Linked DNA regions of Homo sapiens: region 2 is linked to region 1. The links come from fine-mapping of genetic effects on gene expression. Tissue or cell type: prefrontal cortex. Region 1 holds a variant in brackets; the other region holds the start of a gene. All regions are shown on one strand. Distances are from middle to middle.

Region 1 (8,102 bases):
GAGGCTCCCAGAAGGCAGTGTCCATCTCTAACGCAGCTTAGAGAGGAGCACTCACAAGATGAAGTCCTCAGAGCTCTGAGAGGATGATGATGAACCCTCTCCCAGCCTCCTCACTGCCAGCTTGTTCTCTGTCCACCCTACCCTCACCTCACCACCCCCCTTCGCCCCAGCGTAGCAGCTGCATGGTGACAGAAGCCGTGCCAGCTTGGGGCATTAGAAGCAAAGTTGCATTTACTGGGCGGCTCTGGGCTTAGAGAAGTGCACTAATCCCTTAAGAGATGTGTGGCAGGAGATGAGAGGCAGGGAAAGCTAGGGAGGAAATCCCCACGGGGGTGTGGGCCTGGCCCTCAGCTCTAATTCTCTCCAAAGATCAGGTTCAGGTCCTGCAGGAAATGCAGAGGCTCCGGAGCTTCAGAGGCAGAGAAGTGGTAATTAGGGGAGGATGCTTTTGACGGCAGCAACAGTTCTGAAAGCAAAGGGGAAGGGGATCAGCAGAGTCAGATAGGGAGGAAGCTGAGCTGTCCTCAGCTATCAAAGGAGGGAATGGGCCAGAGAGGGCTCTGCAAAGGGAATGCTGGGGCGGCTCTGAATTTCCATCCCTGTCAGACTCCCTGAGTGATGTCACATCCCTCTTTCCCAGGGAAACTAAGATCCCATGGATCTGGATCTATGCAGACTCCTCAGTAGGCCCCCTCCCATCTGGAGCAGATGTGTTGCCATCTCAGGGTAGCCAGACCCTAGCCCCTGGGCCTTCTTCCTGTCCCCTGGGCAATGGCGTGGAGGGCAGGGGAGTTCTCTAGCCTAGTACTAGCCCTGGGGGCACCTCGGTGCATTGCTGAAACAACAGATGTCATCAAGTCCTCTGCCTAAGTGAGGTCTTGAAGCCTATACTTAGCATCCTTCTTGAGAGTTAGAAATAGTGGAATGGGGCATGGTGAGGGGTGGGTTCAGGCTGGGAACCTCCCTTGAGCTAGCTGTGTGGCAGTAACTGGAGCCCCAGCAGAACCTACTCTTCCTGGAGTGCTTCCTTTCCCAGGCCCCAGGGAGGGGCAGGGGCCCCATCCTGCAGATGCTACAGACACTAAGGCTTCCAGCAGACCTGGCACACTGTGTTCAGCTCTGCAGATGACAAGGCAAGGTCCTCAGCCTGCAGCACTTGGGGAGGCCCAGCCTCCCAGTCTGGGGAAGGTAAGGCTTTGGGGTTCGTTCTTTCCATGTCAGACTTTCAGGATCCAAGACCCTTCTGGCTTACCGTGCCAGATCTTCTCTTTTTTTCTTCCCACTACAGGATGCTCGCTCTATGGCAGCAGCTGCTGCATCCCTCGGGGGACCCCGAGCAAACACAGTCCTGGAGCGTGTGGAAGGTGCCCAGCAGCGGTGGAAGCTGCAGGTGCAGGAGCAGCGGAAGACAGTCTTCGATCGGCACAAGATGCTCAGCTAGATGGGCTGGTGTGGTTGGGTCAAGGCCCCAACACCATGGCTGCCAGCTTCCAGGCTGGACAAAGCAGGGGGCTACTTCTCCCTTCCCTCGGTTCCAGTCTTCCCTTTAAAAGCCTGTGGCATTTTTCCTCCTTCTCCCTAACTTTAGAAATGTTGTACTTGGCTATTTTGATTAGGGAAGAGGGATGTGGTCTCTGATCTCTGTTGTCTTCTTGGGTCTTTGGGGTTGAAGGGAGGGGGAAGGCAGGCCAGAAGGGAATGGAGACATTCGAGGCGGCCTCAGGAGTGGATGCGATCTGTCTCTCCTGGCTCCACTCTTGCCGCCTTCCAGCTCTGAGTCTTGGGAATGTTGTTACCCTTGGAAGATAAAGCTGGGTCTTCAGGAACTCAGTGTCTGGGAGGAAAGCATGGCCCAGCATTCAGCATGTGTTCCTTTCTGCAGTGGTTCTTATCACCACCTCCCTCCCAGCCCCAGCGCCTCAGCCCCAGCCCCAGCTCCAGCCCTGAGGACAGCTCTGATGGGAGAGCTGGGCCCCCTGAGCCCACTGGGTCTTCAGGGTGCACTGGAAGCTGGTGTTCGCTGTCCCCTGTGCACTTCTCGCACTGGGGCATGGAGTGCCCATGCATACTCTGCTGCCGGTCCCCTCACCTGCACTTGAGGGGTCTGGGCAGTCCCTCCTCTCCCCAGTGTCCACAGTCACTGAGCCAGACGGTCGGTTGGAACATGAGACTCGAGGCTGAGCGTGGATCTGAACACCACAGCCCCTGTACTTGGGTTGCCTCTTGTCCCTGAACTTCGTTGTACCAGTGCATGGAGAGAAAATTTTGTCCTCTTGTCTTAGAGTTGTGTGTAAATCAAGGAAGCCATCATTAAATTGTTTTATTTCTCTCACTTTCTGGTTTTTAAGAGATTTAGGGAACTAGGAATTTTTCACAAGTGACCTGGTAAATGTAGTATCCCAGAGGGGACAGAGAGCATTGCGTTTTGCTAGGTCCAGACAGGCAGAGCCTTGGGAAGTCCAGGCGGCCGTGGCAGAGCCAGCCACAGTGCAATCAGGCCAAGGCCACGGCTTGCTGGAAGTCCTCCTCACCTGATTAGGAAAGAGGTGGGTAGGCTGGGGCAAGGAGCACAGGGTGAACTGGCCCTTGGGAGTTATCCTGAGATTTTACTTCATGTTTATGGGCAGTTCCTCTGAAACTGAACAGTGCGTGATTCATCCTAATATCCTACAGACACAGTAAATAGCGCTCCCTGCAAAACCTGTAAGTATCCCCAAATGAAAACCAACAGGTATTTGGAGAGGGGTGGGTGGGGGCAGCTAGAAAACGAGCTGCCCCATACAGAAGGAAATGCCAGCAGCTTCAACAGGGACATCCAGGGGAGCCCGGCACTGCGTCAGCTCCAGTATGGATGTGCGGTGCAGGGCATGTCCAAGACCCAGGCAGAGGCAAGGCATCTAGAGGGACTGAGCTGATCTGGTGTCATCAGGGTTGTCCAAATAAACATGGATTAAGAACCTTTGTGGGCTGGGCGCGGTGGCTCACGCCTGTAATCCCAGCACATTGGGAGGCCGAGGCGGGCGGATCATGAGGTCAGGAGATCAAGACCATCCTGGCTAACACGGTGAAACCCCATCTCTACTAAAAAAAATACAAAAAATTTGCTGGGCATGGTGGCGAGCACCTGTAGTCCCAGCTACTCGGGAGGCTGAGGCAGGAGAATGGC[A/G]TGAACCCGGCAGGCGGAGCTTGCAGTGAGCTGAGATCGCGCCACTGCACTCCAGCCTGGGGAACAAAGCAAGACTCCGTCTCAAAACAAAACAAAACAAACAAAAAAAAACCTTTGTGTGGGCCCCCATGCTGGGTTCTTGGAGAGGTGTGGGAGGCAAGAGAACGACGTGAGATGGGGGGTCAGTTTGCAACAGTTTGCCAAAGTTCCAAGACAGAAGCGTAAAGGGGATGGGACTGGGGTGACCTGCAGATGGGGCTCCCAGGAGGAGCAGAGACTCTGGTTGGCATTGGAAACAAGGGACACAGCTGAGAGGGGACCAAGTGGATTGTGGGGTCCTGAGCAAGTGCACTTAGGAAGTTTGTGGTAGGGCTAGCAAGCGATAGATGTGCCCCCAAATGCAAGGCTGGGACAGAGGAGTTGGTGCTGACAACATTTCTACTGGGTCATTTACTAGACAGCTGCTCAGTGCCTACCAGGGTCAAGTACTGCTGTGGAAGCTACAGTGGGCTATTTTATTCTTTCAGGATGGGGATGCTCTTATTTCAAGAGGCATACAAAAGCAGCACTTTCCAAAGGTGGGCAGGTGGGTGTATTAACTTAGCAAGAATAACCAGGCCAGAAATTGGTGCCTAACATTGCCAGGTCTCCCCTGTAAAACCACATGCCCTGGGGGAAACATTGAGTGCTATATTTCTCTGAGGCTTGGGTAAGTCCTGCAGATGATCCAAACTGGCTTTGGTGGTTTTTGGGACAACTGTTGTTAACTATAAATAAGCCGAACTATAAGTCCAGTATATGAACATTTATAAAAGATTAGGAGTGACTGTTCACTTTACTAAGGATTCAACTAGTAACCAAACGTCTCATTGTGTCTCAACTTCACACACACAAAACCCGATTTTCAGACGATGGCAGAGTACACTTCATCTTTCTGTGAATATGAAGGGGCGGAGATCCCCAGCAAAGGGGTGAGCACACTGCTTGGCTGGTATTTGGAACAGAGATGAAGACCCCTGCAGCCAATGATGGAAAAGATCAGAAATGACGTTCTTCACCCTGTCTCGTATGATGTAAAAGGAACAGAACTTGGCTGGGCATGGTGGCTCACGCCTGTAATCTCAGCACTTTGGGAGGCCAAGGCGGGCGGCATCACGAGGTCAAGAGATCGAGACCATCCTGGCTAACATGGCGAAACCCTGTCTACAAAAGATACAGAAATTAGCTGGGTGTGGTGGCGCCTGCCTGTAGTCCCAGCTACTCGGGAGGCTGGGGCAGGAGGCTCGCTTAAACCAGGGAGGTGGAGCTTGCAGTGAGCTGAGATCGTGCCACTGCGCTCCAGCCTGGCAACAGAGCAAGACTCCGTCTCCAAAAAAAAAAAAGGAACAGAACTTGGTGCTGTTGTGTTCAGAATCCTGTCTTCCCTCAAACCCACCAACCATGCTGTTCTGTAATAGATTGGTCCCACCTGGAAAAACAACTGGTTGGGGTTGGCCCTGGGAACCTGAGCCTTAAGAATTGGTCTCCACGATTAGAGACCAGCACTCATCCCTCGTGTGGCTCACAGGGAGGCTGATGGAGAGGCCAGCCTGCTTCCTCGTGGCCTTTCCTTCATTTCTCACCTAGCCCGACTTGGTCCTCCTCCTCCTCTCGTTTCCTGGCATCCATTGTTACACATCTGCCAGCAAAACCCCAATCCCACCCAGTCTGACTTCCCTGCTCCTCCCTGGGCAGCCCAGTGCTGCCACAGAGGCTGAGGGTGCCCTGGCAGGTGCATGGCCTCCACCCCCTCCCTTCCCCCATGAGGGCCAATAATCCTCCCATGAGGCTCACTCTTGAGGCCACTAGACAACCTTCCTGTCTCCCCGTCTCCCTTCCCTAGAAAATCTTGCTTATGACTTCAAGAAAATGGAGTGATTTCTTAACTCAGCCCCATTGTTAAATCATTCTTCATTCATACTCATCCTGACTGCCTTTGCTACAGCCTTGGGGATAGTGTGTTCCTGTTCAAAGCCAACCGCCCACCCCATACTGCATGGTATTTCCATCATTTCTCCAACCCCCAATACTGTCTGGGACCTCCATTTCTCCAATCCCCCCTGCCCAATACTGCCTGGGACCGCCATCATTTCTCCAACCTTACCCTATTTACTGGCACTTCTCCTCAGCCTGGTAACATGCTCAAGTCTTTGTCCTGAGAACCTTCCAGGGGCTCCAGGTCCACCCCTGACTACAGTGGAGTCTCCTCCCTGTCTCTGTGCACTCGGTCATTCACCCCCTGCCAACTGACCTTGCCCTCCACGCTCCTCTGAAACTGCGCTCAGCAAGGTCACAGCTGGCTCTGGGAGCGCCAGGCCCAGAGGGTGTCTTTGGTTCTTGTCCTTCTGGCCCTCTCTGCTATATTTGGTGGTGTTGATCCTCCCTCCATAACACTCTTCACTTGGCTTCTGGGACCTGACCTCTTGAGCCTTTCTGACTGTCCCTTCCTGTCCCCATGAATGTTGGTTTCCCAGGCTTCCATGCTCAGCCTACTTGGCTCTATCTAAAATTTAATTTCTAAGTACTCTCTTTGGAAGTTTATTCTGTTTTGCAGTTTCATGGCGTTTATTCATCTCTATCTCTAGCCCGGCCCTAACCAGCCCCTGAGCTGAGCCCTAACCAGCCCCCAAGCTGCATAGTTGGACTGTGCCCCTGAGCACCCCAAGACCAAGATTAAACTCATCTTTGTCCTGAAATTGGCTTATTTTATATATAATATATATTTATATATTGTATCTATATACAATTTATATATTGTATCTATATACAATTATATATAGATACAATATATAAATTATAATTTTATTATATATAGTACATATGTTTAATATATATTTAATATATAAAATTATGTAATTATATGTAAATATATAATATATGTATACATGATTATATAATATAATATATACATGTGTAATATATATTTATATATAAAATAAGCCAATTATATATTATAAAATAATATAGATGTTATATATAATATTTATAATATACATTATATATAATATAAAATAATATATGTTATATATATATTTTTTGAGACAGAGTCTGGCTCTGTTGCCCAGGCTGGAGTGCAATGACACGATCTTGGTTCACTGCAACCTCCACCTCCCAGGTTCAAGTGATTCCCTGCCTTAGCCTCCGGAGTAACTGGGACTACAGGCACGTGCCACCACACCTGGCTAATTTTTGTATTTTTAGTAGAGACAGGGTCTCACCATGTTGGCCAGGCTGGTCTTGAACTCCTGATCTCAAGTGATCCGCCTGCCTCAGCCTCCCAAAGTGCCGGGATTACAGCTGTGAGCCACCGCGCCTGGTGGCTTCTTTTATATTCTTAACTGGTGGTACCACCACCCACCAAGTTGTTCAGGCCAGAAACCTGAAGGTCATCAATTCTTGATTCTTCTCTTGTACAATCACTCACAACGTCCCACCAACTTTACCTCCAAATAGTCCTCAAATCTGTCCCCTCCCCTCAGCCCCTGTTACCACTGTCCCAGTCTTCCCCATTTCTCACCAGATACTGCGGTTCTTGTCAGGAGTGCCAGAGAGTATGCTTTTAATCAGACCAGGTCACTTCCCTCCTTCAGAGCCATCAGGGGCTCCCCATTTCCTAAGGCGTGAGTTCTTTATTGAGACCTGTAGGGCCTCAAGGCCATGTCTGCTCCTCTGGCCTTTAGCCTCAGAACCAATTGGCAGGAGTCTTGGAAGTGAGGGAATTGGAAAGATCCTCCAGATGTGTGCACACCTAAGTGGGTGTGGGGTCTTGAGTACCAGGCAGGCAGTGAATCCCAGGCTGCCCCATGAGGCTCTGTGTCCTTGGTAGGAGCTGCCTCATCTCCCCACCAGCTCCCACAGCTCAGGCCCTGCCCTAGGGGATGAGGCGGGAGCTGAGCTTGAAGAAGTGATGGAAGCGGTAGAGGGGGGATGCCCCAAGCCAACATTTACTGTCTAACACTGGAGCATGTGTTTCCCACTGCACAGGCAGTGCCTGTGTGGCTGCAGGGAGTCAGTAGGTGCCGTGGACAGAGTGTGGTCCGAAAGCCGGAAGCCACCTGGGTTCTCAACCCAGCTCTGCCCCTTGGCAATGCCTGAACCCCTTTTGAGCCGGTTTCCTCATCTCTAATAATACCAGGCCTCAGGGCCTAGCCTGTAGTAAATCCTCAACAAATGAGGTGCTGGGGCCTAAAGCTCCCTAAATGACCAATCTTCCACCGAGTAAATTAAGTGGCGTGGCTAAGAGCACGAACACTGAGCCCAGTACCCTGGGCATAAATCCTAACTGCCACTTACTAGGTAGGCAGCTTAGAGTAAATATTCAAACTCTATATGCTCTGTTTCCTCACTGCAAAATGAGGCTACAACTACTGACTGTGTTGGGTTGTCGGAGGGAGTGCATTGTGAATGTGTATAAAGCACTTAGAAGAGTTCTGCAGTGTAAGCGCTCAGCAAGTGTCGGCTGTTCTTGGTCACGTCACTATTATTACTATCACCACATAACCTCCAGCCATCAAGTCAAGGTTCTGCAGATTCAACAGGGACTTCCTACTCAGTGTTACCAGGGGCGCTTTAGGCTCCAGAAAACCCTGACCCCTCAGCTAGATCCCACCCTTGTTGAGGTCCAACTCCACACTTCCAGGTGGGGCGACTTCTCCTCCGGCTCCCCTGCCCTGAGGCGTGGAACTGAGCATGGAGCCAAGGCTGCAGGCAGTGCTGGCTCTGAGGGCGCCTGAGCTCTTGAAGGTTTGGGGGCTCCTCTGATTCCTGCCTCCAGGTGGACACGGAGGCCAAGGCTCCAGGCTGGGAGTCGGGACCCCTGACCCTGGCTCCGCTGCTATTCGCTGTGTGACCTCGGGCAGGGCAGGCCTCCTCTCTGAGCCTCAGCCTCTCCAGATAT
Region 2 (8,102 bases), 22 kb before region 1:
AAGTCAATCATCTCATAGGAGCTTGAGGTTATGAGACACTGGACAGATAAGCTTCAGTGGGGATTAGAGGAAAAGCAGGGGCATATAGTTGATGCCAGGGAGAGTAGACACCATTTGGGAGTGATGACAGCACTCATCCCCTATCCAGGAGCACCAACGGTAGGGACAGGGAGTGAGGAAGAACCCAGACCCACAGCTGTGGCACGGATGCCAAGACCTCGCCTCATAAAGTCAAACTGATTTTAGGGTTGTTGGATAAAAGCAGGTATGAACTAGAGGGTATGGGTTTTGGCCTGAGTTCTAGAGCTCCAAACTTGGAGGCAGGATGAAGGCTAAGTCCTGAGAGGAAGCAGTGGAAGGCTCCAGAGCTTCCTTAGGCCTCCTCTGCTGGGGAGAGTGCACTGCTGATGTTACCTGGTCTCCACCCTCTCACTGAGCCCCGAGCCAGGGGCTCCCGGCTCCCTCCTGGCTCACATTCTGACTCTGATGTCACTGAGCTCCCTGCCTTCCTTTCCCATTCGCTTGTCCTGGGATCAAGACAAACTGAACTGTTGACTCTTTCTCTACATGTCTCTCCCTGAACTTCCCCAGTCCCATCTCTTTGCTCTCCCTACACTGCCCCTGCCCCCGCCCCCACCCCCCACCAGAATGCCCTCCTCACCATCACCCTGCTCTTGAATTGTGCCTCAAATTTTGCCCACCCTTCCTGGCAGTATTTGTTTCCCATGGCTGCTGTCACAAATTACCATAAACCTGGTGGCTTCAAACAACACGAATGTATTATCTGACAGCTCTGTAGGCCATAAGTCTGACGGAGGTGTTCTCTTGAACTAAAATCAGGGTGTCTACAGGGCTGCATTCCTTCTAGAAGCTCTAGGGAAGAATGCATTGGCTGGCCTTGACCAGCTTCTGCAGCACCCACAGTCCTTGCCTGGTGGCCCCCTGCCTGCATCTTTGAAGCCAGCAGCATAGCATCTCTCTGACCCTACTTCCATGTCCATCTCCTTCTCTAACCACAGCCAGAAAAGGTTCCTCTGTTAAGGAGCCATCTAATTAGATTGGGCCCACCTGAATAATCCAAGCCACTCTCCCCAACCAAGGGCCTTAATTTATATTTGCAAAGTGCCTTTTACTGTGTAAGACAGTATTCACAAGTTCCAGGGATTAGGATGTGGACATTTGGGGGTGCGACATTGTTCTGCCCACCACTCTGGCCCAGCCCAAGTAGCCCTCACTGCCCTCAAAGCCCCCTCTCCACCATTCTGGGCTCCCCTGGCCCTTGGTCTAGGTTTCCCAAGTGCCTCTGCAGCCTTCCCCCAGCACAGCTCTTACCACCCTGAATTGTCATTGCTTGTTGATTTGTGGTTTTCTTGCAATAAACTTCAAGTTCTGTGGGAACAGGGACAGGGTTTGTCTTGTTTACTGAGATATCCCCAGCACCTAGCACAGTGCTCAAAAAATTTTTGAAGGGAAAAAGCATTTCTGATACGGGAGATAGAAATTATTTAGGCAGATAGCAAGGACAAAAAAGTCCTTGGCAGAACTTCCCTTCTAATAAGAAGCAGCCCTAGAAATCATTTCTTTTCTAACACAGAGCAGCCTCAAAGATTGGGCTGCAAACATATATAAGGAAGCTGGAAGCTTGCACGGAGGAATGCTGGCAGCTGCACTCATAGAAAAGGGCTACCGGGGGGCCAGGCATGTTCACCATGGGACTCCACCTTCCCTTTTTTGTTAGCACATGTACAGTAAGAAAGAACTGGGCAACATGGAGAAGCTCAGGCAGAGAAACCACCTGCATAATAAAGATTGGGCTGGGAGCTGCCAGAGATTTGTGCCCTATGCAGATGGCACACCTGGTGCTAACTTTTTTTGAGATGCCCTGTATAGATGAGATACTGCCTCCCCACTAGCTCATCTATAAAACCCCCTGCATTTCACCTTAAATTGGCAACTCATTTTTCCAGGACCCCTCTCTGTAGCAGAGAGCTATTGTCTTTCTTTCACCTATTAAATTTCCACTCTTAACCTCACTCTTTGTGTGTCTACCTCCTTGATCTTCATGGCCAGGAGACAACAAACCTCAAGTGTCACCACAGACAACAAGGCTGCTTCACTTCTACAACACATCACTTTCTATGTTACATTCTGACCATGTGATTGGTCTGCTATTAGGTTGTGCATTACTTGAAAGCAGAGTTGCATGTGATTTGTCTGTTGTATCCCTGGGGTACCTAGCATCTGTGAGCCCTGGAGTTTGGCTCACAGATAGTGCTTGGCACATGTTTATGGAATTAAATTTAATGAATAGGTTCAGACTCACTTCACTGGCATGGCTCATAAACACAGGGCACATGGAGGATGTATGGGAATGAGGTGCCCTGGGTCAGGTAGGACTATTTGGGAAAAGCTTCTGCAAGGCAAATGCTTGGGCAAAGATTTGAATAAGATGAAAGATAACGACTGGCAGTGCTGGGGGTGATAATGTCCTATGGAGGACTGCAATGAGCAAAGTCAGATATAGGGACAGCCGGTGGGGGGAGTAACCAGTGATGAGATGGGGTGGGGAAGTGCAGAAATGGTAACCACTTGGCTTGGTTGCCAAGTGGAGGGGTCTGAATTGGATGCAACAGGGTGCTTGCTACCAGGGATTGAGCAATGAGCGATGTGCTGAAAACAGAATTGGAGGAAGACAGGATGGACCTAGGAGCACACAGGAAGGGAGTGCATTTCAGGGAGCAGAATGCTAGCCGAGGAAAGATACAGGCAGGGTGATGATAGCTACCTCCTGGGGACACCTGGATAGACAAGATGTGGAAATATGAGAGAGGAGTCAAAGATAGTTTGATGCCACAATCTAGGACCTGCAGAAATGCAGAATGACAGTGGAAGGCCTCCCTTCTGTTTGATGAGGAAGATGGTGAGCTCAGCATTGGGTATCTTTAGTGTTGTGTGTCAGAGGGTCATCCATTGGAGGTGACAGACTCAGCCCCATGCTTTTGTCCCCATGAAAGTCCCACCTTCATATGGAACGTATATGGGGGGAAGAAGTGTCTTTTTCCAGTACTTGAACTATCCCTTCTGCCCCCACGAGGTAGGCATTCTGTCTCTGCCTGAGCTTGCTCACCAAAGCAGCCATTCTGACCTCCACAATGAGCTAACATTGCCATTTATAGAGCCTCCCTCTTTGTGTCAGATGCTGTTCTAGGTGCTTTGCATATGTAAACTCATTATATCCCTACAACCACCTTGAAAATTTGGTAATATTAATCCCATTTTATGGGCATGGAAACCGAGACTTCTGAAAGGATTCCAAAGACTTCCAAAGATCCAAAGGCGGTGTCCTAAAGGAAACCACCCAAATTCACACAACTAGGAAGGGAGGAACCAGGATTCCTGCCCTGGTCACTCTAGCTCCAAAGCCCCTGACCTTTGCATCACACTGCAGGCCTCCTGCCCCTGCCCCCTGCCAACTAGATTTAATTTAATTCTATAGAATTCAGTTTAGCAAACACTTCCTGAGCACCTACCAAACACAGGTCACTCTGCCAGGTGGCAAGGATATAAAGAGGAATAAGACATAAGCATAGGAGAGAGGAACACAAACTCAGTGGCCTCCAGATAAGTGCCCACCTCAGTTCACAGGGCCTGCGAGGGGCTTGATTCCACCTGGACCCAGCCCCTATGCTAATCCAGCCACCAACCTCAAGTTTGGGCCATATTGATACCCCTCCCACCCACCCCTAAGGAATCCCAACATATCAAAGCTGAAGGGGATCTTAGAATCCAACCGAATCATTTTACAGATAAGGGAAGTAAGGGAAGCTGAGGCCCAGAGAAGGGAGGTATCTTTTCCAGGCTAACACAGCTGCTTAGGGGGAGCGCCAGGGCCAAAGCCCCGGTGTCCTCACTCCGGGTCTGGTGCCCTGAATTCATATGACTCCCCTTTCCTTCACAGCTGGCAAGAAGTTCACATCTGCCACATAGCAGCCAGGGACCCTCACCCCTGCATCCTGGCCATGCACACTTTGCCCCATTTTGCCAGGCCCAGCACCAGCATGGGGTAGGGGGATCAGGCTGAGGACGCTGTTGTGCACACTCTTCACAGGCCCAGCCCACACCACCCATCGCCAACCCTAGATTTCTCCTTCTCAGAGGTGTGTGTAGGGGTAGAGACGTTGCCGCGCAGAAAGTCTTCTGCAGCAAAGACGTGGATCCCTAAATAACATTTCCAGATTTTGAATGAGGACAAAGCCCTTCAATCTCGTATCGTTTTTGTTGACGTTACTAGCTTACAGTGTATAAAGCGCTTTCTTTCTAAAACAGCAAGATGAAACAAGCTGAGTTTTATAATACAAGGAAGGGAGAAGCACCGCAGTGGGAGTTCTCAGGCCACACAAAGGCAAGACCCTTCCCCAGGAGTTTGGAAGGCTGACGTTCCCTTTTCTGGTTTGGTCGGGTTTGAGAAATGCCCGCCTCTCCCTTGCGCAAGAGTCTCCCCGCCCAGGTGAAGGCGGGTCTTGTTGCCATGGCGACAGCGCGGTCGGGTTAAGGGGCTGCTCTGGCAACCAATAGAAGCTAGGAGAGGGCGGGGACAACTGGGTCTTTTGCGGCTGCAGCGGGCTTGTAGGTTCGTGGACGCGGCATTGGGGGAGGGGACGGGGGTCGCGGGGCTATTGGGGGTCCCAGTCCGGCTTAAGACCTCTGGGCGTGGTGGGCACCGGCCTTCGCCGTCGGAGCAGGGGTCCCAGACTCGCACCCAAAAGTTCCCGTCGGGCCCGAGCGGGGAGGAGCTGCGGGGCGGGCAGAGGCGGAGATGGCGGAGGGCGGTGGGACGTGATGCGCGGGTCAGAGCCGGGCCTTGAGAAGGAACTGGAGGCCCCTGGCAGCGGTGTCCCCTCGAGGACCCCTCTGCCGGGCTCACCAGGTGGCTGGCGGAGAGCCGGAGAGTTGGGCGGGAGGGAAGCAGGGTTTGGCGACCAGGTTTAGCAGGCCTTGGAATCCTGGAGCCCAGCCCCCAACCCCATTCCCACTTGGCCGGATGGTTAAGGGCCTAGCGTGCTGGCTGCGGTGTGGCCACCTTCCCCTTCTCCGACTCCGTATCTCTTTTTCCAGGTGTCCGGCTTTGCTGGCCCAGCAAGCCTGATAAGCATGAAGCTCTTATCTTTGGTGGCTGTGGTCGGGTGTTTGCTGGTGCCCCCAGCTGAAGCCAACAAGGTGAGGGAGGTGAGCCTGCAGCACCTGGTCACGACCACAGTGCACGGCCACCCTGTCTACAGGGCTGACTCAGAGGTAGCCAGCTGCTCCTTAAGCCTGCCTCTCACTCACCTATGGGCCATACTTCTTTTAGTGGTCTTCCTTCAGGTTCAAGGCTGCTGGCCTCCCTAAGGATAGTGCGGGTGAGGAGTGAGGAAGGGTGGGGCACAGAGCACTGGCTCACTCTGATCAGACAGATCAGTGGTGGACTTCCAGCAAGGAAGTTTGGAGAAGTTATCTAAGTTCTCCATACCTTCCTTTGCTTTGGACCAAAGTATGTTTTGTTTCAGATATTTTTGGATTTGGGAGTATTTGCACATAAAAAATGAGCTATCTTGGGGAGGGGACCTAAGTCTAAACCTGAAGTTCGTTTATGTTTCATATATGCTGTATATACATAGCCCGAAGGTAATTTTATACAATATTTTCAATAATTGTGTGCATGAAACAAAGTTTATCTACACTGAACCATCAGAAAGCAAAGGCGTCACTATCTCAGGCACCCATGTGGATAGTCTGGTTGGTTGGCATCACCACCATTCCTGACAATGAATTTATATGCTACCGATAAATATTTTCTTACGTTACACATAAGTTCTTAACGGTAAAAAAATATGATGTACTATTAACACAGTGAAAATAAATGATGTGTTCAGGGTAACTAAGCACAGTAGCATCACCAGAATACCTGTATCAGCTGTTAGACACAGCAACATAAGGCTTTCTGTCTCCTGCTGTGATGCTGTGTTTTGATTAAAGGTTACTGTGCACAGTATTTTTTTAGGTGAGAAGTAGTATCTGAAGCAGTAGAGGGACCAGAAAGTGGGTCCTCTAGAGATGAGGAGGCATTCTGCCAGATGGCTTTTAAAAATGTTTTTGCCAGTCACCTGATTCATTAACAAGCTTTTGTCTTAGAAGTCTCTTTGATTTTATAGACTGACACGATTTCTTGTTCTGTTATGAATGCGCTCTGCTATAGTCTTTCAAGAAGCCCGTCACTCATTGTTACCATGTCTGTAGGTGCTTTTCTGCAATGTTAACATCATCTTTGTGGTCATGTCTGTGCTTAACAAGTTTTAGATTGGGAGCATTTCGAATTTTTGTTTTAGGGGTGCTAGTACTACCACCTGTAGTAGCAGTTGTATCTATTACTCTGCTTAGGGAGAATCAAATTACATGACAATGTAAAAATGCCCTGTAAGTGTAAAGTCCTATACAGTTTGAAGTTTCCATTATTAAGGGTGACCCACCTAAGTTCTGGGACTCCTGAGATAACTTCCATTCTTTATTGCTACATTCCTGTGGAGCTGTTTGGGTAGATCTATGGAACTAAAGATCATCCAGACTTTGAAGTAAGGTTAAGGCTGAGAGTTTGTTTCCATTCTCTCCTCAGAAATCCTAATTAGTAAAGACATTTATGGTGATATCTCTTACTCATTCCAGAAGGGAAGAACTTTCAAAGGGGTTGCTTGAGTATTCCCACAGAAATGATCCACTTTTTCTTATTCACCCTCGCCCTTTATGTTTCCCCAATCCTACCTAAGAAGTTGGAGAAGGAATGTGGGGAAGAGGGTGGCTGCCAAGTCCACTGGACAGAGGTGCACACACAAGTGTGGGGTCTGGGGTAGAGGACACACACACACACACACACACACACCCATTTCCCCTCATCCCTCTCCCCGCATTCCTCTAAGTACCTGCTTTGGGACTGGCAGGCCTAGACAACTTTCTGTGAGTCTCATTTGCCATCTGGACATTTTTCTATCTTTAGGACCCGGTGCTGCAGCTTGCTTCCTACAGTGGCAGTCCTTGCTGGATTTGAACTTGGGGATGGAGAAAGCTCAAGAGCATAGATATGGTTCACCTAACAGGATGGGGAACAGAAAGTTGACAACCTTGCTAGAGCCTGAACCCCCTGAACCCCAGGCAGGGTCTCTGCATACTTGACATGTGCTTTCTTTTCCAGAGTTCTGAAGATATCCGGTGCAAATGCATCTGTCCACCTTATAGAAACATCAGTGGGCACATTTACAACCAGAATGTATCCCAGAAGGACTGGTAAGGCATTACACGCAGGCCCCTGGCTGCTATACCCAGTTGAAGTTATGGGTGTTTACTAGAGTTCTTGGACCCTGGAGGATAAGCATGCTCTCCCATTCCTATGGAGAGCCTTTCAAAGGAGTAATTATTCATGTCACAGAACCAATTTCATAGTTGTCAACTGTCTGTGGAAACAGGATCCAGGTGTCTGAATTCCAGCTGAGTGGTCCCTGGCTAGAGGAGTGGATTTTGTTGTTTTGCTTTGAATATTGGTCTTTAGTGATGCATACAGAATAGTAGTAGAGAAGTTGGCAAAGGTAGGTATTCTGACCACATGCTGTAGGATACCTAATGCTTTTGCAAAGCTGTGTTACATGTGTTATTCTGTGCCAGTCTTATAGCATCCTTGTAAAGTAGGTGGGATGGATTTTGCTCCCATTTTATAATAGCAGAGACAGAGGCCCAAAGAAATAATTTAGAGTGTTGAATTCATTTCTGGGTACCTCACTTTTAAAAAGAGAAGAATAACCCAGAATTCATTCAGAGAAAGGAGACTAGTGCGGTGAAGGGAAGTTTTAGCACATTGTCCTGGAAGGAATGGTTTAAGGAAGCAAGGAAAGCCTAAAGAGGAGAGGACTTGGGGACACACGATGATTGATTGAAAGCTGGCATGTTATGGGAGGTGGGACATGTGGGAGCAGGTACTGGTGTGGATCAGTTATGTTCAGTGGGGTTTCTTGGTGTAGAGTTGGGGCCAAGGATAAAAGCTTCAGGGAAACCGACTTAAGCATGAGTTGAGGGAGCAT

Evidence for each region. PIP is the estimated chance that this variant, and not a neighbour inherited with it, causes the effect.
Region 2: it holds the start of TMEM9, and the variant in region 1 is fine-mapped to the expression of TMEM9 in prefrontal cortex (CommonMind, PIP 0.95).

Annotation. Positions count from the first base shown.
Region 1 is chr1:201,129,002-201,137,103 of GRCh38, reverse strand. TMEM9 (transmembrane protein 9) reads left to right here. Exons shown (of 5, transcript NM_001288565.2): 5 at 1,289-2,332. The coding sequence ends at 1,441. Among named protein-coding and RNA genes, the nearest start is that of ASCL5, 5.9 kb to the right of the region's middle. RefSeq lists a silencer at 2,351-2,557. The variant A/G (reference allele first, on the strand shown) is at 3,167.
Region 2 is chr1:201,150,973-201,159,074 of GRCh38, reverse strand. It overlaps TMEM9 (transmembrane protein 9), which reads left to right and starts at 4,601. Exons shown (of 5, transcript NM_001288565.2): 1 at 4,601-5,217; 2 at 7,223-7,314. The coding sequence starts at 5,152. RefSeq lists a silencer at 4,525-4,804 and an enhancer at 5,215-5,364.